Linked DNA regions of Homo sapiens. The protein of the gene in region 7 purifies or fractionates together with the protein of the main gene of each other region. This does not show direct contact. Each region holds a gene or a part of one and is shown on either strand. Other genes may lie near its edges.

The links.
Region 1: the proteins of SOCS6 (region 7) and WDTC1 purify together in Homo sapiens (affinity purification with mass spectrometry; 2 studies listed by BioGRID and IntAct, with this or other methods). This does not show direct contact.
Region 2: the proteins of SOCS6 (region 7) and POLA1 purify together in Homo sapiens (affinity purification with mass spectrometry, with the first as the bait; one large-scale study listed by BioGRID). This does not show direct contact.
Region 3: the proteins of SOCS6 (region 7) and SCAMP3 purify together in Homo sapiens (affinity purification with mass spectrometry, with the first as the bait; one large-scale study listed by BioGRID). This does not show direct contact.
Region 4: the proteins of SOCS6 (region 7) and KIAA0232 purify together in Homo sapiens (affinity purification with mass spectrometry; 2 studies listed by BioGRID and IntAct, with this or other methods). This does not show direct contact.
Region 5: the proteins of SOCS6 (region 7) and HIGD1A purify together in Homo sapiens (affinity purification with mass spectrometry, with the first as the bait; one large-scale study listed by BioGRID). This does not show direct contact.
Region 6: the proteins of SOCS6 (region 7) and WDR48 purify together in Homo sapiens (affinity purification with mass spectrometry, with the first as the bait; one large-scale study listed by BioGRID). This does not show direct contact.

What each region holds. Positions count from the first base shown.
Region 1 is NC_000001.11:27,293,632-27,297,131, reverse strand, and holds part of WDTC1 (WD and tetratricopeptide repeats protein 1), read right to left. Parts: intron 3,111-3,500; coding exon 3,016-3,110; intron 2,619-3,015; coding exon 2,503-2,618; intron 807-2,502; coding exon 731-806; intron 85-730; coding exon 1-84. UniProt on the Homo sapiens protein: May function as a substrate receptor for CUL4-DDB1 E3 ubiquitin-protein ligase complex.
Region 2 is NC_000023.11:24,710,918-24,714,417, forward strand, and holds part of POLA1 (DNA polymerase alpha catalytic subunit), read left to right. Parts: intron 1-3,500. UniProt on the Homo sapiens protein: Catalytic subunit of the DNA polymerase alpha complex (also known as the alpha DNA polymerase-primase complex) which plays an essential role in the initiation of DNA synthesis.
Region 3 is NC_000001.11:155,259,561-155,263,552, forward strand, and holds the start of SCAMP3 (secretory carrier-associated membrane protein 3), read right to left. Parts: upstream 2,801-3,992; 5' UTR 2,592-2,800; coding exon 2,526-2,591; intron 2,175-2,525; coding exon 2,097-2,174; intron 1,100-2,096; coding exon 977-1,099; intron 891-976; coding exon 770-890; intron 1-769. Other genes in the region: dual specificity protein kinase CLK2, read right to left, coding at 3,658-3,840. UniProt on the Homo sapiens protein: Functions in post-Golgi recycling pathways. Acts as a recycling carrier to the cell surface.
Region 4 is NC_000004.12:6,862,727-6,866,226, forward strand, and holds part of KIAA0232 (uncharacterized protein KIAA0232), read left to right. Parts: coding exon 1-1,457; intron 1,458-3,465; coding exon of another isoform or gene 3,466-3,500.
Region 5 is NC_000003.12:42,794,491-42,797,990, forward strand, and holds part of HIGD1A (HIG1 domain family member 1A, mitochondrial), read right to left. Parts: intron 1-3,500. UniProt on the Homo sapiens protein: Proposed subunit of cytochrome c oxidase (COX, complex IV), which is the terminal component of the mitochondrial respiratory chain that catalyzes the reduction of oxygen to water. May play a role in the assembly of respiratory supercomplexes.
Region 6 is NC_000003.12:39,086,516-39,090,015, reverse strand, and holds part of WDR48 (WD repeat-containing protein 48), read right to left. Parts: intron 1,889-3,500; coding exon 1,783-1,888; intron 786-1,782; coding exon 698-785; intron 1-697. UniProt on the Homo sapiens protein: Regulator of deubiquitinating complexes, which acts as a strong activator of USP1, USP12 and USP46. Enhances the USP1-mediated deubiquitination of FANCD2; USP1 being almost inactive by itself.
Region 7 is NC_000018.10:70,292,045-70,295,544, reverse strand, and holds part of SOCS6 (suppressor of cytokine signaling 6), read right to left. Parts: exon of another isoform or gene 498-3,500; intron 467-497; exon of another isoform or gene 1-466. UniProt on the Homo sapiens protein: SOCS family proteins form part of a classical negative feedback system that regulates cytokine signal transduction.

The DNA.
Region 1 (3,500 bases), on a different chromosome or scaffold from region 7:
GCCGGAAGCCATTGCTATGAAGGTGCAGGCCATTGGACACACCGTTGGACACACCGTTGGTGGACATCTTGCCATTCTGGACTTCTGGCAGGAGATAGTGAGAAAGTGACAGCAACAACTCAGGAAGAGGACCCATTTCTTCCTGGCAGCCCTCTAGCTTCCATCACGGGGTCTGATGGTTCCATCGTGGGACTGTTCTCCCAGAGTAAGATCCATTCCCAGAAAGCAAGTTCTGACATAAAGAAAAGCCCGTGCGCCCTCTGCTGGCTGGCGAGGGACACAACTTCACCGTGGCATTACTCAGCTGGGGCTGGGGCTGGGGCTAGGGCTGGGGCTGGGGCTAGGGTTGGGGCTGGGGCTAGGGCTGGGGCTGGGGGTGGGAATGGAGTGAGGAGGTGCCTAAATCAACTGTAGGCCCCAGGAAGAAATCAATGAGAAGACTGGGCCAGGATACAAAGGAGAGGGGAACTATTTCAGGTTCTCAAGAGCCAAGCCATGGAAGGAACCTGTCTTTTCAGAGGGAAGCAAAAAGGGCAGTGATGCAAAGCTCTTGAAGAGATCTCTGCTCTATTGTCATCCTCTTTCTTACTGCATAGGTGGGGTTATTTCAGAGATCTGCTATTTTTGGAGGATCACGGTCCAGAGTAAAGGGCAGGCTTCTCAGCAGGTGTAGCATGCACTTAAGCTCCCCTACACCGCCGCAGTAGAGATACCCTAAGGGAGAACTTACCCCCCGAGGAGTGGCATTTTCTAGGCAAGAGGAAGGTGTACGGCCGCTGCTTGTAAGTCAAGTCAAACAAATAGACCTAGAGTTGAGGGGGGCAAAAAAAGAGATGGAAGCTGTGAGGTAAGGATGTGGTTGAACCAGTAAGCAGGTCTTGGTTTCTCAAGAACTAGAGTCTTGGAACACAGTGAGTGTTGAGCATAGAACAATCAAGCTATCCTAAGAGGTACTTCCAGCAAACCTCAGGCTGGAAAATCTTCCTAGCTCTAGCATTCAGGGTGGGCTATCTGATCTACCCAAAGTCCTGCTTGAAATACTATCATTAATTAGAATCACATTTGGCTGGGCATGGTGGCGTAGCCTGTAATCCTAGCACTTTAGGAGGCTGAGGCAGGAGGGTGGTTGCTTGAGCCCAGGAGTTTGAGACCAGCTTGGGCAACATGGCAAAACCCCGTCTTTACAAGAAATACAAAAACTAGCCAGGTGTGGTGGCGTGTGCCTGTGGTCCCAGCTACTCAGGAGGCTGAGGTGGGGGAATCACTTGAGCCTGGGATGTCGAGGCTGCAGTGACCTGAGATTGTACCACTGCACTCCAGCCTGGGTGACAGAATGAGACCCTGCCTCAAAACAAACAAACAAACAAACAAAATAGAAGGTCAGGTGCAGTGGTTAATGCCTGTAATCCCAGCATTTGGGAGGGTGAGGTGGGCGGATCACCTGAGGTCAGGAGTTCGAGACTAGCCTGACCAACATCGTGAAACCCCATCTCTACTAAAAATACAAAATTAGCCAGGCGTGGCATGTGCCTGTAATCCCAGCTACTTGGAAGGCTGAGGCAGGAGAATTGCTTAAATCCAGGAGGCAGAGCGGAGGTTGCAGTGAGCCGAGATCGCACCATTGCCCTCCAGCCTGGGCAACAAGAGCGAAACTCCAACTCAAAAAAAAAAAACAAAAAACACGTCACATGTTTAAAAAGATGAAGAAGTCCTCAAAGGTCACAAAGCCAAATGTTTACCCTAGCACTACTCCTGAGCTTTTCATGATTCCTTGGACAGGTCCAGGAATGTCTGGCTTATCCTCACCTATTCTGCATCCCGCTTCATTTGTATATATTTGGGCCTTGCCTTGTAATGTCATTAACTGTTTCGTTTGTCATGTCTCCCATCAGCCTGGGGATGGATCATATTTCCCACTTGTCTCTATTATATTTATAATAATGCGAGTCCCAGAGTAAGTGCTCAGTGTTGGTAGAGTAAATAAATGTATGCAAGGCTTACTAAATATCCTGAGAGCACACAAACAGAAGGTTTAGCAACCTGCCATTATCAAAGAACACTTCCCAAAGCTGGCACTAACCCACAGCTTGCTCTGAGCTGCATGCTCTGAGCCCCAGGGATTTCCTCCTAGGAAAATAGCAGACGAGGAAACTGAGGCTCAGAAAAATAAAGAGACTTGCTCAAAGTCACAGTAAACAGCTGCTGAACAGCAGGCCAGCATTTGAACAGAAGTCTGTCCATTCCAAAGCCTATATTCTTAACCAAAATGCCATACTATCATATTTCTATCTAGTTCATTAAGAAAAAATGAAATAAAAAGACTGAGCTAGGACATCTCTCTGGGAACTCCAATGATGCCACATCACCCCCACATTTCAATGTAACATCATTTACCATAAGGCTGTTGTGTCTTGTCTGCCTCAGCAGTGAACATAAGGTACATGCCCCTGGCTGCTGGGCATGGAATGGTGATGGGGCAGAACCACCTTATGCTGTACATACCTGTTCCCCCCCCATGTTGACTAGTAGCTCTGTGCCATTGGGGCTGAAGGTCACATAGGTGGCAACCAGCACTCTCAAACGGTTGTTGTAGTCAGGAAGCTTCACTGGCAGGTGACCTGCAGGGAATAGCCCAGTCATACTAGGGTCCCAGTCCCTTTCAAAGGGGCATGAGATTGTGTGAAGTCAGTCATATCAAAAATTATACCAATCAACTTTAGCATAAAAGCAGCTACAAGTGTTGAGCCCTTACTATATGCACTGGGCTAGTTGCTTTATATATTTTATCTCATTTAGTCATTATAACCCCATTTTACTTAACCTTGATGAGTTTCTTTTCTGTAATTTGCTGAAGGTGACATAGCTTGTCAATGGCAGAGTTGGGATTAAAACTCAGGTCTGTCTGACTCTAAAACCCTTGCTCTTGACCACCATGCCATGCTGTCTCCCTGGACTGCCCCCAAAAGAGTCAGCATCTAGCCGAGAGTTTGGGGCCAGAGCTGTGCTGAGCGCTACCTGCTACGTAATACTGGGCTGCACCGTCCGGAAGGGGTTTCTGCCGGTCACAGAAGGTGTGCACACCCGCTGAAGGGCTCTGCTTCATGCTCTTTCTGGTGGGAAGGAAAATCATATAGGTTAAAGTTACAGCACTGCCCCTGGCTAGACCAGACCACACTCACTAGACGAAAACTTACATTTGTATCTGAGACATACAGGAGGTATTTTTCCTCCTTACCTAAGCAACCCCAAAGGCCCACCAACTAGACAATTACAGACATATACATTACAGTGCTTTACCAGGTAGGTCCTATAAGCTGTCTGGGTCTTCATGACCATCTTATTTTTCCCATTTTACAAACAAGCAAGCTAAGGTTCAAGACCCGCTCCAAGCCATGCAGTGTGTGAGGGGCAGCAGTGGTCACCAAGCCCATGAATGAAAATAAACAGGCGACATTCCTGCATCCATCCCAAGAATCATGGAAAGCCCAGGCTGGAGAGGC
Region 2 (3,500 bases), on a different chromosome or scaffold from region 7:
TCTCCCAAAGTGCTGGGATTACAGGTGTGAGCCACCGCGCTGGCATGTATATGTATTTTTATTTCCTTTTCTTTCTTTTTTCTGAGACAGATTCTTGCTCTGTCGTCCAGGATGGAGTGCAGTGGTGCGATTTGGGCTCACTGCAACCTCCGCCTCCTGGGCTCAAGCTATCCTCCCACCTCAGTGTCCCGAGTAGCCAGGACTACAGGCACATCCTGCCACGCTCGGCTAATTTTTTGTGTTTTTAGTAGAGACAGAGTTTCGCCATGTTGCCCAGGCTGGTCTCAAACTCCTGGGCTCAAGCAGTCCGCCCGTTTTGCCCTGGGAAAGTGTTGGGATTACAGGCATGAGCCACGGTGCCCGGCCCCTTTTCTTTCTTAAACAAAAGATAATGTTATAGAGGTTTTGTACTTTGCTTTTTTCTTGTAGCAAGATGTCTTGAAAATTACCCCATATTAGAACATAGAGAGCTTGTTTTTAATTATTTATTTCTATGTAGCTGCATAGTATTCCATGATAGGGATTGCACAATGTTTATTCAAATGGTTTCCTTGGAAGGACATTTAGATTATTTTGAGTAATTTGCTATTATAATGCCACATCCAATAACTCTGTGCATATGGCGTTTTCCTCAGAGAAAATTCCCAGAAGTGGGATTGCTGGCTCAAAGAGTAGCTACGCATAAATTTTTTTTTTTTTGAGATGGAGTTTTGCTCGTTGCCTAAGCTGGAGTACAATGGCGCGATCTCGGCTCATTGCAACCTCTGCCTCCTGAGTTCAAGTGATTCTTCCGCCTCAGCCTCCTGAGTAGCTGGGATTACAGGTGCCTGCCACCACACCCAGCTAATTTTTGTATTTTTAGTAGAGACGGGGTTTCACCATGTTGGCCAGGCTGGTCTCGAGCTCCTGTCCTGAGATGATCCACCCGCCTTGGCCTCCCAAAGTGCTGGGATTACAGGCGTGAGCCACCACGCCCAGCCCACTACACATAAAATTTTATTAGCTATTGCCTATTCTTTATAGGAGCTGTCCCATTTTACACTCTCATGAACAATGTATGAATGTCTGTTTCTCTACAGCCTTACTAACAGTGTTTTCAAGCTTTTGAATTTTTGCCACTCTGATATGTGAGAAGTGGCATTTCAGTGTGGTTTTCATTTGCATTTTTTTTTGTTTGTTTGTTTTTGAGACTGAGTCTCACTTTGTCACCCAGGCAGGAGTGCAGTGGTGCGGTCTCAGGTCATTGCAACTTCCGCCTCCTGGTTTCAAGCGATTCTCCTGCCTCAGCCTCCCAAGTAGCTGGGACTACAGGTGTGTGCCACCATGCCCGGCTAATTATTGTATTTTTAGTAGAGATGGGGTTTCACTATGTTGGCCAGGCTGGTCTCGAACTCCTGACCTCGTATTCCGCCCGCCTCGTGGCCTCCCAAAGTGTTGGGATTACAGATGTGAGCCACCATGCCCAGCCTCATATGCATTTCTTTTACATATGAAATTGATCATCTTTTCATAAAACGTAACTATTTATATATGTTTGTGTTTACTGCCTGCTTTCCTTTTGGGCTTTTTATCTTTTAAGTTTTTAAAAGTTCTTTGTCAGGGAAATTGGTCCTTTATCTGTGATACATATTGCACAAATTTTTTCTTCATTTTTCTTTTAACTTGGTTTTCTTTTTTCTTGGTTTTTCTTTTTACACCAATTCTGGTGTAATTGAATTTATCATTTTTTTTCTTGCAAGTGGATTCTGAGTCATAGAAAGATTTTCACTGGACCCAAATTGCAAAGGAATTGCTTTTTAAAAGGTTTTTGTAAAGTTTCATTTTTAAAAATTTTGATTTGTGATCCATTTGGTGTTTATACTGGTTTACTTCTTTACAAATGGCTAGCCAACACTACTTAATAAAGTCCATCTTTTCCTTAGTGATATGGGATGCCACCTTCATTATATATTAAATTTCCATAAGTAATTGGGTCTTATTCTGGACTTTATGTTCTGTTTCATTTGGTCTATTTGTATGCCACTACCACATTCTTATTTTTTTTATTTTTTTATTTTGAGACAGAGTCTTGCTCTGTTGCCCAGGCTGGAGCGCTGGAGTGCAATGGCATGATCTCGGCTCACTGCAACCTCTGCCTCCTGGGTTCAAGCGATTCTCCTGCCCCAGCCTCCCGAGTAGCTGGGATTACAGGCATGCACCACCATGCCTGGCTAATTTTTGTATTTTTAGTAGAGACAGGGTTTCAGCATGTTGGTCAGGCTGGTCTCGAACTCCTGACCTCGTGATCTGCCTGCCTCGGCCTCCCAAAGTGCTGGGATTACAGGCGTGAGCCACCGCGCCTGGCCTACCACATTCTTTCAATTATTCATTGTTGGCTTTTTTTTGAGATCAGGACTATTCTGGGATGAATCAGAAAGCGAGAGTAAAATTGACGGTATTAGAAAAGTTTGTAGGTGATTTACACATAGCCGTAAGAGAAAACATATGGCAAAAGTTTTGTTTGTTTTTTTTCTTTTTCAAGACAGAGTCTTGCTCTGTTGCCAGGCTGGAGTGCAGTGGCGCGATCCCAGCTCACTGCAATCTCGCCTCCGGGGTTCAAGCGATTTCCCTGCCTCAGCCTCTCGAGTAGCTGGGATTACAGGCATGTGGCAACCACGCCTGGCTAATTTTTTGTATTTTAGTAGAGATGGGGTTTCACCATGTTGGCCAGGATGGTATCGATTTCCTGATCTCGTGATCCGCCCGCCTCGGTCTTTTAAAGTGTTGGGATTACAGGCGTGAGCCACCGCACCCGGCCAGCAAAAGTTGTTCTTTAATGAGCAGATGTCTCTGTGCTGTTTAGTGTTGATATGACATACTGTGTATCTGGTTGCTGTTTCTCATAAAATGGAAATTAGGATGCCACCATATCATAATTGGTAATCCCATTTCTTCACAGTTAAATTTTCCTATCAGATTCAGTATACAGCTAAAGAGATGATCTCATGAAGGCTACTAGGCTAATTTCTTGGTTCAAGATTAGCTTTATCTTTTTATTTCTGTGGGGAAAACAAACCCAAATTCTCACTTTTTTAAAAAGCTTTTTATTCACATTAACAATAGCAGTTAAGCAGTCACACTTATGCTGATATTTAACTGGTATTTCATTAGTTTCTATAAAAACATTTGGCCCATGTTTTCTTGAATTAAACTCATTTAAAATATTTTTTCCTACATACCTTGTATAGAATCTCATAGTTTTGTTTTGTTTTGTTTTTTGAGATGGAGTCTTGCTCTGTCGCCCAGGCTGGAGTGCAGTGGCGTGATCTTGGCTCACTGCAAGCTCCACCTTCTGGGTTCACACCATTCTCCTGCCTCAGCCTCTGGAGTAGCTGGGACTGCAGGCGCCCACCACCATGCCCGGCTAATTTTTTGTATTTTAGTAGGGACAGGGTTTCACTGTGTTAGCCAGGATGGTCTCGATCTCCTGATCTCGTGATCCTCCCGCCTTGGCCTCCCAA
Region 3 (3,992 bases), on a different chromosome or scaffold from region 7:
CACTATGTTGTCCAGGTTGGTCTCTAACTCCTGAGCTCAAGCAACCTGCCTGCCTCGGCCTCCCAAAGTGTTGGAATTACAGGCGTGAGGCACCATACCCAGCCCTGGATCCTCTCTTTTATCTCCAATTTGGGGTCCAAGGAGACAAGTGAGAGTGGAAAAATTAATACTGTTTATTATTATTTAAAACATCTAAGCACTGTACCAAGTACTTCACATATATTTTGTTTAACCTTCACAACAACCCTGTCAAACGGATGCAAACGTGGTTTTCATTTTATAAATAGGGAAACTGAGGCATTCAAGATTAAGTAACTTCCCTAAAAGCTCATGGTTAGTAAGCAGTATCTCTAAAATTCAAACTCAGCAGTCTGACTCCAGAGCCCAGGTTTGTGTTTTTTTTTTTTTTTGAGATGGAGTCTCACTCTGTCACCAGGCTGGAGTGCAGTGGCGCTATCTCGGCTCACTGCAACCTCCACCTCCCGGGTTCAAGCGATTCTCCTGCCTCAGCCTCCCGAGTAGCTGGGACTACAGGTGCGCGCCACCATGCCCAGCTAATTTTTGTGTGTGTGTATTTTTAGTAGATACAGGGTTTCACCATGTTGGCTAGGATGGTCTCGATCTCTTGACCTCGTGATCCGCCCACCTCAGCCTCCCAAAGTGCTGGGATTATAGGTGTGAGCCACCGCACCCAGCCGAGCCCAGGCCCTTAAGACCTGTTTTTGCTCCTCCCAAACTCTCAGATGCTCTTCCCCACTCTATTACTTACTAGCTGTGCCCCCCAGGGCAGCATGCTGCAGCTCTCGCTCCCTTCGGTCCAACTCCTCTGCCTTCCGGTTGAGCTCCTCCTGTTTCTTCAGCAGCTCAGCTGTGGCTGCTGCAGCTGAGGCCTGCCCAGTGTGAGCAGACGGAGATGTGAGCCCTGGGCCCCAGGACTGGCCCTTCTCCCCAGCCCTCACCTGCACACCTCCTGTACCTGAGTGCTGTATGAGCCATAGTTCTTAGGTTCTGTGGGGCTGAGCTTTCTCGAGGGCTGCAAGGAGGGAGCTGAGGGTGGAGGCAATGGGGCAGGGGCTGGAGGCTCATAGGCTGGTGGTGGCTGTTGAGGAAAAGACCTTAGTGATCATCTAGTCCCTCATAACACAGGAATCTAGAGTCTGCTTGAATACCTTTAGACCCAGAACTCATGATGTAAGGAAGCAGCCTTTCCCCCATTTGTTAGGAAGCTAGTTCTTCTGTTGAATTTCTGTCAGAGAACTCTATGATGACCTGTAGCAGCCTTATCATCCCTCATATCCAATTCCTTAGTGAGGACTCAAATCACTCATTTACCATATCTCCCCACTTAACTGTGTTTTTTTTTTTTCTTTTCTTCTGGGGATGGAGTGTGGGGTTGTCTCTCTGCCACCCAGGCTGGAGTGCAGTGGTGCAATCATCACTCATCGAAGCCTCAAACTCCTGGGCCCAAGCAGTCTTTCCATCCCAGCCTCCCAAGTAGCAAGGACTACAGGCATGTGCCACTACACCTAGCCAATTTTTAAAACGTTTCAAGAGATGGGGGTCTCGCTGTTGCCCAGGATGGTCTCCATCAAATTCCTGGGCTCAAGCAATCCTCCCACCTCAGCCTCCCAAGTGGGATTACAGGCATGCACACCATGCTTGGCTTTTTTTTTTAAGTTTTAAGTACCATGAAAACCCCTTAAATTCTTACAACTCACCATCTTCTAATCCAGTGGGACAAACAGGTGTAGTCCTCCTCATTCCTTGCTTTCAAACTGCACACCTAACCTAAACTCCAACCAGCCCCAACCTTTATTTTCTTCAAGAAAGCCTTCCCATACAGAACATTGGTTAAGGCCTTGCCAGCCTCCAGATCTTCCCAGGACTGACTTTTAGAGCTCAAACCATTTGGGTTGGTGGCCCTGGTGGCCCTAGAAGGATGAGGCATCCCATGGCTGACTAGCCTCTCTCAGGGAACTAAGATCACAGTGCCTCTTCCTTCCTGTGCATGCAGAAAAGTCCCCTGTACCCAAGCTAACTTGTCTCACTGGCAAACCCTTCCCTTCCTTGAACTCCTATGCTCTCCAGTAGCTCACCTCCCGGGTCTCAAAAGGGTTGTAGACGTCAAGCGTGGCATACTGCCGGCTGGGTCGGTGCTGGATCACAGCTGGGTCCTGAGGGCAGAGACCCGGGTCTCAGCTGGCACCCAGTGCCACCTAGGGGAATTCCCAGGGACCATTCCCAAACTGCCTGTGGCTCCAAGTACTGCACCTTCGGGGCCACGCCGTTGTCCCAGGACTGGGACAACATTTACCTCAAATCCATCATCCAACACTGCCAGCACCAGCCCATTAAGGGGCAGGGCCCGCCCCCCAGAGTGCTCACTGGTCTGGAGTCACTGTCACCCCACGTGGCGGCTCTTCCCAGGATCAAATGTCACAAATGGGGATACAAGTTAGCCCGACCCTACAGAACCGGGAAGAATCAACCTGACCGCCCAAAAGAGGCCGACTGGCGCAAGTCACCTGAAAGGGGTTGTCAAGCTCGCTGGGCTCGGCGAACGGGTTTCCGCCGTCTCTGCTCTGAGCCATGTTTGCAACTGCGGCCTCCGCGGCCCTCTGCCCTCCACGCCCCTGCCGCAGCAGTGGCGGTAGCGGTAGCCCTCAGAGTCCACTTCACTCGCCTCAGTTCGCCCCGCTTCTCTGTGCACGGATTGGTTCCACCGACCGGAAGGGCCACAAGGATCCCCGCAGCAGCCGTGGGTTGCGCCTGCGTCTTGTCCAAAAGCTAAGACGAAAGTGCCCCCACGTGATACCTCTAACCCAGTGCCCACAACCAACTACCGCCCCTCTTCCATGTGACTTCCTTCCACTAACGAACTACACTTCCCAGCAGGCCTCGCGTAGGAATCCGGCCTTCCTAGTCTCCCGAGATGGACGACGGGAGCCTTCTGACCGGTCGTGGCAATCCCCCCTAGGAGCCAGGTTGAGCACGTTTTCAACCTGAGTTTCTGGCTCTATACTGGGCCGCGGCCTAATGACTCTAGGAGTCAGATCTTTCCCAACTCTCATAATTCCACATCCGAGAAGTGCCACCTCATAACACTTCTCTGTTTTAATCTGAAAGAAATGCTGCCCCACCCATCACTACCCTCCCATATGATAAGGTGGACAGGGGAAATAAACTGGTAGCCTGGCTGTGCTTCATTTTGGAGGGTAAGGAGGACTCCCTTCATACCCAAACTCAGAAAGTTTGCCAATAGTTTCATCCCTCCACCCCAGCATTCCCAAACCTCCAACTCCAGGGATGGGGGTCAAATGAAGCACGTTATTTTATTTCACAAAGACTGTACAAAATTCCTTATAAAACATGGGGTAGATGCCACCTGGTTACCTCACTCGGCCCCCATCCAACTCCGTATGAGGGGGCAGGTGAGGGTGGAAACTGTGTGGATGGAATAGTATTATGTACAAGGCAGGGGTTGAAGTGATAGGTACAAGTTCTTTCATATTTACACTATTTCACATATTCACAGGTATATAGAGAGCCAGGAGGAAGGAGTGAACTCTGGCTCGTTCTCTTGTATAAAAAAGCACCAGTGTCCTGGACTGGACACCCACTGCTATAAAAGATGCAGGGGGGCCCAGGGCCTGATCGTCACCGACTGATATCCCGACTGGAGTCCCACAACTTGTTGGGCGGCTCAGCCCGAAGGCGGGCGAAGAAAGGATGCTGAAGGGCTTCACCCAAGGTCAGCCGCTTAGCTGGTTCATACTCTAGCATGCTTTCAATCAGATCGAAGAGCTGGTGGTGTTCCTCTGCCTCTGAGGTCAGATACCGCTGGTGGAGGAGGGCAGGAAAAAGGTGAGGCAGGATGCCTTACAAACCCTGCCTTCTTCAAGACCCTACCTTTCATTCTTGGAGAACCAAGGCTCTGCTTGCAACCAATTTGAAGGCTACCTAACCACGACCACACCAGGACCAACGTTTCT
Region 4 (3,500 bases), on a different chromosome or scaffold from region 7:
TCAAAAAAACATCTAAACTAGAATCCGTCTGTGGTATTCAGCTAGAACAAAAAACAGAAAACAAAAATTTTGAAACTACACAAGTATGTAATGAAAGTCCACATGGAGATGGCTACAGCTCAGGGGTTATTAAAGACATTTGGACAAAGATGGCAGACACAAATTCTGTGGCTACAGTAGAAATAGAAAGAACTGATGCTGAGTTGTTTTCGGCAGATGTAAATAACTACTGCTGCTGTCTAGATGCTGAAGCTGAACTGGAGACCCTTCAGGAGCCTGATAAGGCTGTGCGGAGGTCAGAGTACCATCTGTGGGAGGGACAGAAAGAGAGCCTGGAGAAAAGAGCATTTGCTTCTAGTGAGCTATCAAACGTGGATGGTGGTGATTATACAACACCCTCTAAACCCTGGGATGTAGCCCAAGATAAAGAAAACACATTCATTCTTGGAGGAGTTTATGGAGAACTCAAAACCTTCAATAGTGATGGGGAGTGGGCAGTCGTACCACCTAGTCACACAAAAGGAAGTCTGTTACAGTGTGCAGCTTCTGATGTTGTGACGATAGCTGGTACAGATGTCTTTATGACCCCAGGAAACAGTTTTGCTCCTGGGCACAGGCAGTTATGGAAACCCTTCGTGTCATTTGAACAGAATGATCAGCCGAAGAGTGGGGAAAATGGGTTAAATAAGGGATTTTCTTTTATCTTCCATGAAGACTTACTAGGAGCTTGTGGCAACTTTCAAGTCGAAGATCCTGGACTTGAATACTCATTTTCTTCCTTTGACTTAAGCAATCCATTTTCACAAGTTCTTCATGTAGAATGCTCATTTGAACCTGAAGGGATTGCATCTTTCAGCCCCAGTTTTAAACCGAAATCAATCCTCTGTTCTGATTCAGACAGTGAAGTGTTTCACCCCAGGATATGTGGTGTTGACAGAACACAATACAGGGCTATTCGGATCTCTCCTCGGACTCACTTTCGCCCAATTTCTGCATCCGAACTGTCCCCAGGAGGAGGAAGCGAGTCAGAATTTGAATCTGAGAAAGATGAAGCAAATATTCCCATTCCTTCTCAAGTTGATATATTTGAAGATCCGCAGGCAGATCTCAAACCTTTGGAAGAAGATGCAGAGAAAGAAGGCCATTACTATGGAAAATCAGAGCTTGAGTCTGGAAAATTCCTTCCCAGGTTAAAAAAATCTGGGATGGAAAAGAGTGCTCAGACATCACTGGATTCCCAGGAGGAATCAACTGGGATTCTTTCAGTAGGAAAGCAAAATCAGTGTTTGGAATGTAGCATGAATGAATCCCTGGAAATAGATTTAGAAAGCTCAGAAGCAAATTGTAAAATAATGGCACAATGCGAGGAAGAAATTAATAATTTTTGTGGTTGCAAAGCAGGTTGTCAGTTTCCTGCTTATGAAGATAATCCAGTTTCTTCGGGACAGCTGGAAGAGGTATGTGTCTGCGTGTTGGTATTTGACAAAAGGATTTGATCAGAGTTTAACCCAAGAACAGACATGCCAGTCAATGAAAGATAGGGTTAAATTATTGGGAAATTAGCTTAAATGTCTTAAAACTTAAATTGTTCTAATTTTACATGTAAGGACTTAAAATGGATTTGATATTTATGAATTTGAACTAGACAGTAGAGTTTTTCTGGAGAGAAAAAGCTTTTAAAAATCACAGGATGTAAGATTCCTATGTGTTGTCTTAAGATGCATGTTATTGGCCGGGTGCAGTGGCTCACGCCTGTAATCCCAGCACTTTGGGAGGCCGAAGTGGGTAGATCATTTGAGGTCAGGAGTTCAAGACCAGCTTGGCCAACATGGTGAGACCCCGTCTCTACTAAAAATACAAAAATTACCCAGGCGTGGTGGCAGGCACCTGTAATCCCAGCTCCTTGGGAGGCTGAGGCAGGAGAATCACTTGAACCCGAGAGGCAAAGGTTGCAGTGAGCCGAGATCGTGTTCTGTACTCCAGCCTGGGTGACAGGGTGAGACTCCATCTCAAAAAAAAAAAAAAAAAAAAAATACATGTATTATGCTTAAAGCAAAAACCTAACATGAAAGTGTTCTAACATTCAAAGTTGATGAATCAGGAAGTGGCTGCTATTAAAGTGTAGCAAACCTGTCTAACTGACTCTTAGAAGTTGATCACTTTATCAAAACTTGTGTTTTACATATAAAACAAATTATATCTCTATGGAGTTCTCAAAAATACATTGTGGTACATGTAGAAATTCACCCACAGCCCAAATGCAACAAAATTTCTTCTACAGAACCTATACAGATGTATCTTGCTTTATACAAAGTACATATTCCAGAAGCTGTGTGGATTATATGTTAAGGCTATGGAATGAGGATCACATTAAGTTGTGTTAATGAGAGTCATTGTACCTCTCCACTGTATGCCCAAGAAATGGCTTAAGGTTAAACTGATTGTACAAGAAATAACACTTAAGACAATAAACTGTTTCACAAAAAAAGCACAGCAGTCTGCCCATTTTTCCACTGTTTTCGATATGTGAGTGCCTAGCCTTTCTCCAGAAATAGTTTATTTAATTTTGTTTTTGTTTTTGTTTTGTTTTGGGGACAGAGTCTCGCTCTGTCGCCCAGGCTTGAGTGCAGTGGTGCGATCTCAGCTCACTGCAACCTCCACCTCCCAGGTTCAAGTGATTCTCCTGCCTCAGCCTCCCAAGTAGCTGGGATTAAAGGCATGCGCCACCACGCCCGGCTAATTATTTGTATTTTTAGTAGAGACGGGGTTTTACCAGGTTGGCCAGGCTGGTCTTGAACTCCTAACTTCAAGTGATCCACCTGCCTTGGCCTCCCAAAGTGTTGGGATTACAGGCGTGAGCCACCGCGTCCGGCCCAGCTTATTGAAAAAAAGAGATGGAGGTGTTTAGAAGCCATGCCACCTGTGGCCAGAGAGCAGATGAGTGTTGCACTTCCTCCCAACTGTCCTGCACACCCTACCCACCATTGCACATCCAAATCCTACCCATACCATGAGACTTATTTCATATACCACCTCCTTCACTGACACTTTCCCTAATTCCCTCTCTCCCCTGCTCCAGCCCCACTCTGCATCAGAATTAATTTTGCCCCTCTCTTAATTTTCATGCACTTTATGCCTCTTTTTGATTGCATTTTTCATTTCTCATGAGTTATTTATATCCTGGACTATAAGCTCCTTGTGGCTGTGGACCATGCCTTACTTATTTGTCGCATCAGAGTGCCCAGGTGTGGGACTGCTTGCCTGTGATTCTAGGAAGCCCCCAGGCGACTTGAGAGGCACTGCTCTAATCAGCTACCTAGAGACCCGTAGAGGATGAATTTAATCCCATTGAAACACTGCTAAGAAAAAACCCAATAATATTGTTAGCCTTTATCTGTTTGTTTATTGCCCCATTTTTCATCCTTAAATATTCCTTTATGTACTTTGTATTTCACCTGGTTCCAGATTGGGAAGAAAGAAAAAGAGGAAAGAAGCAAGAT
Region 5 (3,500 bases), on a different chromosome or scaffold from region 7:
CCGTTTCCCCTGTACAACCCATTCATTTTTAGCACCATGTTAATTAAAAATAGTGAAAAATTTTAAATTGATGTTACTTTTATCAATTAAAATAGTAGCTACTAATTTTCTGGCTATCTTCATCCTTAATCAACTATTTAACTTGACAATTTTAAGTTACTCAAACCAAACTGACAACTCCTATTGAACCTTCAATATCATGTTGGAAATCCTACTTAGCACTTTTCGGTGTAGTTAAATGCAGTCTTTATTGCTTTCAACTGCTGATTTATTTATTCCAATGTGCTTCCTTGCTTCAATTTTCACTTCAGATTAGTTTCCAGTCTATTACAGTAATCTGTTATCCATGGTGGTTGCCTCTGGGGAAAAGATTATTCTGAATAGCCAAAGTTTCTACCTAGCTCATTATTTACTCATTTTAAGAACAAAGCTTTTATTTTAAATATTGGTAGAAATGTCTCCTTCATAGCCTTTTAGATTTTTTTAATGACCTATGATTAGTTTTTTTTCTTTTTTGAGACTGAGTCTTGCTCTGTTGCCCAGGGTGGAGTGCAGTGGCACGATCTCGGCTCACTGCAACCTCCATTTGGCACACACCACCGTGCCTAATTTTTTTGTATTCTTTAGTAGAGACAGGGTTTCACTCCTGACCTCACGTGATCCACCCACCTCAGCCTCCCAAACTGCTGGGATTACAGGTGTGAGCCACTGTGCCAGCTTATGATTAGCTTTTTTTTTTTTTTTTGAGATGGAGTTTCGTTCTTGTTGCCCAGGCTGGAGTGCAATGGCGTAGTCTTGGTTCACTGCAACCTCTGCCTCCCAGGTTCAAGTGATTCTCCTGCCTCAGCCTCCCAAATACCTGGGATTAGAAGTGCCTGCCACCATGCCTGGCTAATTTTTTTTGTATTTTTAGTAGAGATGGGGTTTCACCATCTTGACCAGGCTGGTCTCGAACTCCTGACCTCAGGTGATCCACCTGCCTCCCAGTGTTGGGATTACAGGCATGAGCTACCACACCTGGCCCTATGATTAGCACCTTTTAACATCACTGCAGCACAAAACTGAATTACCCTCAGGGTCTTCTTAATATCTTCTAAGCTTCAGATCTGCCTTCATTTACATACCTTATATCCCCTAGGCTTCCTTTTAAAACTCTACCCTCTTTTTATAATTCCTTTAAATGGTATCCCAAAGGCAAGATCTAGCCTGATAGTGTATGAGTAAGGGGATAGGAAAAAAAAAAAAAGGATTCATTTTCATTATCACAGGGATCAAAGGCTCCTTTCCTCCTTTTCAGTCATCTCCGTGAATAGCCCTTTTATCACAATGAGGCATTAACAAATGCTATTTCATTTTAGCCACAATAACAAAGTATACTTTCTTCACTGAACTATTTTGAATTGCAATAAACTTTACTCACAGATAAAATAAGGGCCTGAAGCATAGTGTAAGCATACAAGTCTCTAATTAGTGTCAATTACAATAAACTTAAAAGTCTATGCCCATCCTAACACCCATATAAAATCTTACTTTCACTTCTGGGTTTTTCATGTGCATTATGCTCCCTTTGATAAAAGTACCTCTCATTCAACACCTTGCTACTCAAGGGGAGTCAGTGGCAGTTAAGGTCCTCAACAAAAATGCAACTCCGGAGGGGGTGGTGTGCTTAGTTTAGAAAGTGAATTCATCCCTATAAGCCTCACCTTCATTGAGAAGACTCAACTGTCATCTGACATAGAAGAAAATCTTAGCTAAATAAAAGAAAATTTAGATTGGACTTAAACCTTCTTTTTGTACTCCATTACTTCTTAACTGAATAAACTCCTAAGTAATGAGCTTTATTATATATAAGGTTCAATAAGCTCAAGGTTCAAGATACTCACTATATATCTGAATAATACAATATAAACACTAAAGTAATTAATCGTTCAAAAATTAGTTGTTGTTTTTTTTTTTAAAAAAAAAAGAGAAATCATGTAACCGCCAAACAGGTTCACCTTGCCCGCTGGCTAGACAGAGCTGATTTACCAAGACAGGGGAATTGCAATAGAGAAAGAGCAATTCACCCAAAGCCAGCTGTGTGGGAGACCAGGATTTTTATTATTAGTCAAATCAGTCTCTTGGAGCATTCAGGGATCAGTTTTTAAGGATAATTTGGTGGGTGGGGGAAGGCCAGAGAACAGAGTGCTGATTGGTTGGGTTGGAGATGAAATGGGAAGTTGAAGCTGTCCTCTTGTGCTGAGTCAGTTCCTAGGTAGGGGACATAAGATCAGACGAGCCAGTTTATTGATCTGGGTGGTGCCAGTTGGTCTATCAAGTGCAGGGTCTGCAAAATATCTCAAGCACTGATCTTAGGAGCATTTTAGGGAGGGTTAGAATCTTATAACTTCCGTCCCTCTCCCTCTCCCTCTCCCTCTCCGTCTCCCTCTCCGTCTCCCTCTCCCTCTCCCTCCTTCTCCGTCTCCGTCTCCGTCTCCGTCTCCGTCTCCCTCTCCCCACGGTCTCCCTCTCATGCGGAGCCGAAGCTGGACTGTACTGCTGCCATCTCGGCTCACTGCAACCTCCCTGCCTGATTCTCCTGCCTCAGCCTGCCGAGTGCCTGCGATTGCAGGCACGCGCCGCCACGCCTGACTGGTTTTGGTGGAGACGGGGTTTCGCTGTGTTGGCCGGGCCGGTCTCCAGCCCCTAACCGCGAGTGATCCGCCAACCTCGGCCTCCCGAGGTGCCGGGATTGCAGACGGAGTCTCGTTCACTCAGTGCTCAGTGGTGCCCAGGCTGGAGTGCAGTGGCGTGATCTCGGCTCACTACAACCTCCACCTCCCAGCCGCCTGCCTTGGCCTCCCAAAGTGCCGAGATTGCAGCCTCTGCCCGGCCGCCACCCCGTCTGGGAAGTGAGGAGTGTCTCTGCCTGGCCGCCCATCGTCTGGGATGTGAGGAGCCCCTCTGCCCGGCCGCCCAGTCTGGGAAGTGAGGAGCGTCTCCGCCCGGCCGCCATCCCATCTAGGAAGTGAGGAGCGCCTCTTCCCAGCCGCCATCACATCTAGGAAGTGAGGAGCGTCTCTGCCCGGCCGCCCATCGTCTGAGATGTGGGGAGCGCCTCTGCCCCACCGCCCCATCTGGGATGTGAGGAGCGCCTCTGCCCGGCCGAGACCCCGTCTGGGAGGTGAGGAGCGTCTCTGCCCGGCCGCCCCGTCTGAGAAGTGAGGAGACCCTCTGCCTGGCAACCACCCCGTCTGAGAAGTGAGGAGCCCCTCCGCCCGGCAGCTGCCCCGTCTGAGAAGTGAGGAGCCTCTCCGCCCAGCAGCCACCCCATCTGGGAAGTGAGGAGCATCTCCGCCCGGCAGCCACCCCGTCCGGGAGGGAGGTGAGGGGGGGTCAGCCCCCCGCCCGGCCAGCCGCCCCATCCGGGAGGGAGGTGGGGGGTCAGCCCCCCGCCCGGCCAGCCGTGCCATCCGGGAGGGAGGTGGGGGGGTCAGCCCCCCGCCCGGCCAGCCGCCCGG
Region 6 (3,500 bases), on a different chromosome or scaffold from region 7:
ATTCCACTTCTAGGAATTTATCCTAAAAAGCACACAAAGATATATGTACAAGGATGTTCACTGCAGCACTATTTGTAATAGAAAACATTGGAAACAACCTAAATGTCCATTAATAGGGGACTGATTAAATAAATTATGGTACATTTATACAGTAGAATCTTACACAGTCATTAAAAAGGAATGATTCACATGTACAGACATGAAAAGATGTACAGACATGAAAAGATGTCCAGGATACATTTTTTTAGGTGAAAAAAAAGTTGCAGAACAGTATAAGAGATTTTGTGCAATATAAAATGAACTGTAGACACATCTATGTACACAAATAATATATGCTTGTATGCAAAGAAAAAAGTACTGAAGGCTATGCATTAATTTATTAATAGTTGTTACCTCTGGGAGGAAGGATAGGGAGTGAATGGGCAAGAATGAATGCTTGGGGAAGATGAGAGCTTCATTCATTTATTATTTTGTTGAATAAGCATATATTATTTTTATAATTAAAAACCAACAAAGCTAGATAGATAAATAATTATCAGTACTATTTCTGCAACTTTGGAACTGCAAGGAAGCAGATGGGGATTCCACTTGGGAGTCTAGCTTTTATTAAGGTTTAAAATTATAATGTCTAAAGCAGTTCTTAATTTCATGAGTTACAAAAAAATAAAAGAGCAAAGTGGGAGTGGAGGATACTTACATCCACAGTGATGTCAATTACCCATTGTGGCACTGTTTCATTAAGAAGCATAGACTCAGTCTCACCCCCGGAATCTCGGCAGAGCAGCCTAAACATAAACCATCAAGTAGTAAGTAACCCAACAAGCACAGATGTCAAAATCACTGTCAACAAATATTAGCGGGAGGAACCCTCATGGTTTTCATGTAGGATAACCCCCACTTGACAGCTGAGGAAATAAAAGTACAGCCTGGAAGAATGACTCACTCAGCTAAAAGGGAAAGCAGGCCCTAAAATCAGGCCCCCAGATTCCAAGGCCAGGCATACACTACAGCTGCTTCTTGGAGTCCTTGGGTGATGACAGGAAACCTGGGTGCAAGCAAAGCACCCAGTAAAGGTCCCCAGCTAGTGCCACAGTGCATGGCAGAGACTTTCACACACAGTGGAAGTCAGAATATTTCTGGTAACCACTCAGGAAACTATCAGAAAGATAGATAATCCTGCACTCAAGAATAAGACAAGCATGTCTTATTCTTTCTTTCTTCTGGCACCTATAGACTAGTAAGCTCTCCCCCGGCTCTACCAGGACCTTGCTAGCAACTTGGAGGTGAACCAGTCCAGCCCTTCCCTGAAGGGCCCCACACATAACTGTCTGGCACCCCAGGCAGTGTCAGTGTCAGCCTCAACAGTTCCCAGGAGCAGCCCAGCTCATCTTGGCTGGATCAGCCTAAGAAAAGTAATGTAATGTACTCTGAAGCTCTTCTGTGGGCAGGGAATTCTAGTGGTATCATCTGTTGCTTGGCCCTTGCAGTCACACGGGCAAAGTGAAGGAAAGTGAGAATTACCTACAGAAACCAATAGAGAAGCTGCTTCGAGGCAAAGTATTCTACCTCATTCGAACACTAGAGTTTCTCCTCCCAATTAGAATGTGGTCTAACAGCAGCAGACATTTCACTATCTCATGGACATGGGATGCTTCCAATCCCTGGCATCCCTAGAATTTAATAATAAACTATTTCTAATATCGAAATACTGAGTTTGAGTCGACACTTCTTAGCAAATGGGATACCTTCTCAGGCAGAACCTCTTGTCTTTCTTACCCATACCTGAACAGTGTGCGACCTCCAGCTTCACCAAAGATCACGGGTGTATGTGGGGGCACTTGAAAATATCCATTTCCCTTCTGCACTCGGTTCTCCTGCTCCCCATTTACTAGGAAAAGATGCAGGTGGTGTTAATATCAGAGTTAGTGCTAAAAATACAGATTCTAAACATTTTACTCCCACAAGCTTCAAACATTGCAAGATTAAATTCAAATGTCCTCTAAGTCCACCAGAGTTAGAAATAAAGGTTAAAAACAAGTTAAATTTCTGAAAATAAGAAACACAGCAACTTGTGGTCTATTTCATGGAAAAAATGACTGTATTTTAGAGGATTTTAATAAAAGAGATTAATGTTTGAGATTCAGAACAAAAACATAACCAGCTACTTCAGCCACAAGGAAGTCTAGGACAGCCTGTATATAAACGAAGATCTAGAGTTTTTTTGTTTTTGTTTTTTGTAGAACACCAAGCTCAGAAAAATTTCTTGAGGAAAAAAAAATTACATTTAATGGCAGCCATAACTAAAGACAGAAGCATTTGTGAAAAAATCCTCAAGGAGTCCACAATTTTGCTTTTATTGTTCTCTGCAGATTTCCTTTCCACTGTTGTTTTTTCTTTGAGACGGGGTCTCATTCTGTTGCCCAGGCTGGAGTGCAGTGGTGTGATCACAGATCATTGCGGCCTCAACCTCCCCTGGCTCAAGTGATCCTCCCACCTCAGCCTCCTGAGTAGCTGGAACTATAGGCACACACCACCACAACTGGCTAATTGTTTACATTTCTTGTAGGGACAGGATCTTGCTATATCGCCCAGCATGGTTTCAAACTCCTGGGTTCAAGGCTGCTGGGCAGGGCAGCCTAAACATAAGCCATCAAGTAGTAAATGACCCAACAAGCACAGACGTCAAAATCACTGTCAACAAATATTAGAGGCCTCCCAAAGCACTGGGATTACAGGTGTGAGCCATCACGCCTAGCTCCATTCTGCTTTCTTCATAAACTTTTGACCCAGCACAGGTGGGTGATACCAACTCAAGTGCCAATTCATTCATGACACTTTCCTCATCAAACTGGAAGCATCTGACCCCCTGAAATCCTATAGCATTTGTGGAACCTCTCTCCTAGCACCCTTCTATCTCAGAATGCTTTCCATAAGTAACTCTCTGCCATACCAGAACATCAGCTCCTGAAGGACAGGGACCATACCCATGTGTCTTTAGTACCCCCACCTGAAACTTGGTAAGGGCCCCTGAATAGTAGAGCTGCTCACCAAGCACCATCTGAACAACTCCAGAGTGTCCACTGAGTATGCTGCAGGTGCTGTGGTCTGAGCTCTGGATGAGGAAGTAGCCATGCCCTGCCCTACCTTTCCCATGCAGTCTGATGTTAAGGATGACGTGATTTCTGGTGATGTCTTCCTTATACTCCTCACCCAAAGCCTAGATCCAAAGGGTGCATGACTATACCACTGTTTTGATAACTTAATCCTTATTGCTTATTTGGGTGGCTGAGAGTATCCCATCTAACTGGAAATGATTTGCCCACAGCAACATAGCTGTTAAGCAGCAGAGCCCACCCCAGAACCTAGCTTTCTTGACCCTCTGTGGAAAGATTTTTCCATCAGTTTCTTTAGCTCAAAGTCCACTGTACAATTCTGACAGGGATCAAAGTGTGTCAGGTGATGTAAAAGAAAAGCCACCATGGGTGGGGCAACAGCACCCT
Region 7 (3,500 bases):
GTAATACATTACTGAAAACCAAAATTAAGCTTTAAAAACAAACACCATTATTATACACATCACAACAAACTTTAAACAAGTAACATACAGATACAGTAAAAATCTACCAGTAAGAATTCATCTGACTTTCAAAGCATGCTAACCCAGCTGCTTCAACCATCTAGCATATTATTGATATGGTCAGAACAATGTGTACCACAAAAATCACTGTAAGTGCCACCATAAACAGCACCAAATAATCAGCTACCCAGAGCGCTGGGTAAAAATACCTTGTCTAAAGATTAACACTGAACTATTGAAATTGTTTTTGATGGAAATCTTATCTAATAGGAGCCATACATTCCTGTCTTCAAAAAGGTATTTTAAGCACAAGTGTGTATATTAAGTATAATCTCAGACTGTCACAAACTGCTGTATATAAATGGATGCCTCTCCAGATGACCAAATTTATCTGCTGGAAAATTTCAGGATGGCATAATGACACCATTAGGACTTACTGATGTTCAGATTACTGCCTGCCTTCCAGGCCTTCAGATATATCCTGTCTTCTTTCTTTTCTTCTCTATACTCAAGAGTCCGATGCTATGGAAAATAAGATAATCATCACTCCCCAGTCTCCAAGTGTGATGCCCTTTTAACAATTTTAGAAAGTATTTTAGTGTGTTCGCTGTTAGGAGTGATAAAACAGTATCAGAACAAACATAATCAGAGCAGAAGGCTCTGCAGAGAAGGCAAGTGCGGCATCTTTTTTGTTCTCGGTCTCCCACCAATGAACTGCAATGACCCCACAGCCAGGTCAGGCAATTGCTGCTAACACTGTGACCACCTGTAATCCTTACCAGTCTAGCAGCTTGCACTAGCAATCCTTCTGAAGGCGCCCATTCACTTACTGCTTTCATTTCCATTTCTCTTGCTCTTTTGGTCTCAAACACTTTTCCCACATTAGGCTTCCTTAACAAAAACATTCAAGTCTAACACAGGTGTGGCTGATTAATCAGAATACTACTTTTGACTAGTCAGATTATGTTTTAAATTAATAGTAATAATTACTTTAAATAGGAATTATTACCATTATTATATATTATAAAAGAGGGGGTGAGGAGAACAGTTAGAAAACAAAACTCCCACAGCCAAAAAGTAAACATCCAATAAAAGAAAAATTGAGGGAACTCCCCTCCAAAGAACAACAACAAAAAAAACTGACAAGAAAAACGGACTCCTACTCAGTGGCCAGGCCCCCTGGGATGTGTCAGGGACACAGAAAAGAATTAATAGTAATAATTACTTTAAATAGGAATTATTACTATTACTTTAAAACATAATCTAACTAGTCAAAAGCAGTCAGATAAAGGAGTAGAATACTAGTGTTAAAGTATTAGCACTTGTTATATTTCAGGCACTTAATACACTAACATGCATTATCTCATTCCATTTTCTTTCTTTTTTTTTTTTTTTAAACGGAGTCTCGCTCTGTTGCCCAGGCTGGAGTGCAGTGGCACAATCTCGGCTCACCACAACCTCCACCTCCCAGGTTCAAGCAATTCTCCTGTCTCAGCCTCCCGAGTAGCTGGGACTACAGGTGTGTGCCACCATGCCCAGCTAATTTTTGTATTTTTAGTAGAGACGGGGTTTCACTATGTTGGCCAGGCTGGTCTCGAACTCCTGACCTCCTGCTCCACCCGCCTCAGCCCCGCAAAGTGGTGGGATTACAGGCGCGAGCCACCGCGCCCGGCTATCTCATTCCATTATCACACCAGCTCTGAGAGAAACATCATCATTATTATATACGTAAAGGAACAAAACCTTAAGTTTTTTTTTTTGTTTTAATCTACCCTATAAAATTGAAGTGCTGAAATTCAAACCTAGATCTGCATCCCCATGAGAGACTGTCTTCCTTAGTTAGCATGGAGGGCTTCTAAGTCTCTGGCTTTTCTAATTCCAAAGGAGATTTTCCTTCTGGCTTAATTCTACACCAGAAAACTGAGGATACCAGGAGATTTCAGATAACTGAGGTTTCACTTCACTAAGCTATGTAAGCAGGAGAAATGGGTTTTGGGATGGTGACTTTCTATACACTATACATGACTATACTTCCAGAAGTGAAAGAGATCTGGGCGTCTACACTGCCAGTCAGTCTGGTACTTGAGTCACTCAGACACACATCATAGCTCTACAGGCAGTGACAGTTGTCTCTCTGTGGGGCTGTTGGGGCCATGTAATGATAAGGACTTTGGTTTTATTAGTGCTATGATTTACTCAGCCAGGCAAGCAGACCAGCTCAGAAAAGGACAAACGACATGAAATACCAACAACTTTCTAACATGTACACAGCACATCTCTGCCTTTAAGGTGTAGATAACAACATGAAAACCGCAACTACTTTCTGTATACCCACACCCCTCCTACTCAGTGGCCAGGCCCCCTGGGATGTGTCAGGGACACAGAAAAGAAGGACCACAGTAGACACTCTGCCCTCATAGAACTTATTTGGGGGGGGTGGCGGGGGAACAGCAGAAACAAGTAAACAAAGTAATTACAGACAATAATAGAGGTTATGAAGGAACCACACAAGTCAATTACTTGGGATTACTGAAGGAGCCATAAGGTAGTCAAGGAAGTCTTCTCTGAGGTGGTGATGCTCTGAGGTGGTGCCACTGGCATTAAGATCTGAGAATGAACCAACCACAGGAGCCACCGAAGGCACTGTAGGCAAACAGAACTACTGTGTCAAAGGTGGCGGAGCAGGAAGCAGCTTAGATTGTTGAGGAACGGAAAGGCTAGGGCAGAACCCTGGTAAGGCAGAGATGGTTGCTCAAGATGAGAATTAGGGAGAAATGAAAACACATTTCAGAACTAGGCAGAAATGTTATAGTCGATGAGGAAGAGTTTGGATTTTTGGCTGGGCACAGTGGCTCGTGCCTGCAATCCCAACACTTTGGGAGGCAAAGGTGGGAGGATCACTTGAGCCCGTGATTTCAAGACCAACTGGGCAACATAAGGAAACCCCATCTCTACCAAAAATTAAAAAAAATCAGCTGGGCATGGTGGCATGCACTTGTGGTCCCAACAACTGGCGGAGGGGGTGCTGAGGCAAGAAGATCGCTTGAGCCTGGGAGGTCGAGGCTGCAGTGAGTCCTAACCGTGCCACTGCACTCCAGCCTGGGCAACCAGAGCGAGATCCCCATTTCAAAACAAAACAAGAGTTTGGATGTTACCATAAATACATATTCATTATAACTGTGAGATAAATTATTGTCCCCACTTTAGCCCCAGATAAGACTCAGAGGGCATACAGAACGTGTTCAACGTGACAGAGCGGGTAAATGGATGCCCCAACATGTCCAGAGTGTGCAAGGTGAGAACTGAAATCTTACGTGACTTTATCTAAGTATGTCTGTTCTCGAAACATCAAGACCAACGGCCACCTAAAAACAACTGCCCCAACGAAGTAAAATGTAAGGTTTGTATGGGTGGGTAAAGACCTGAAATCAGTTTAAGTA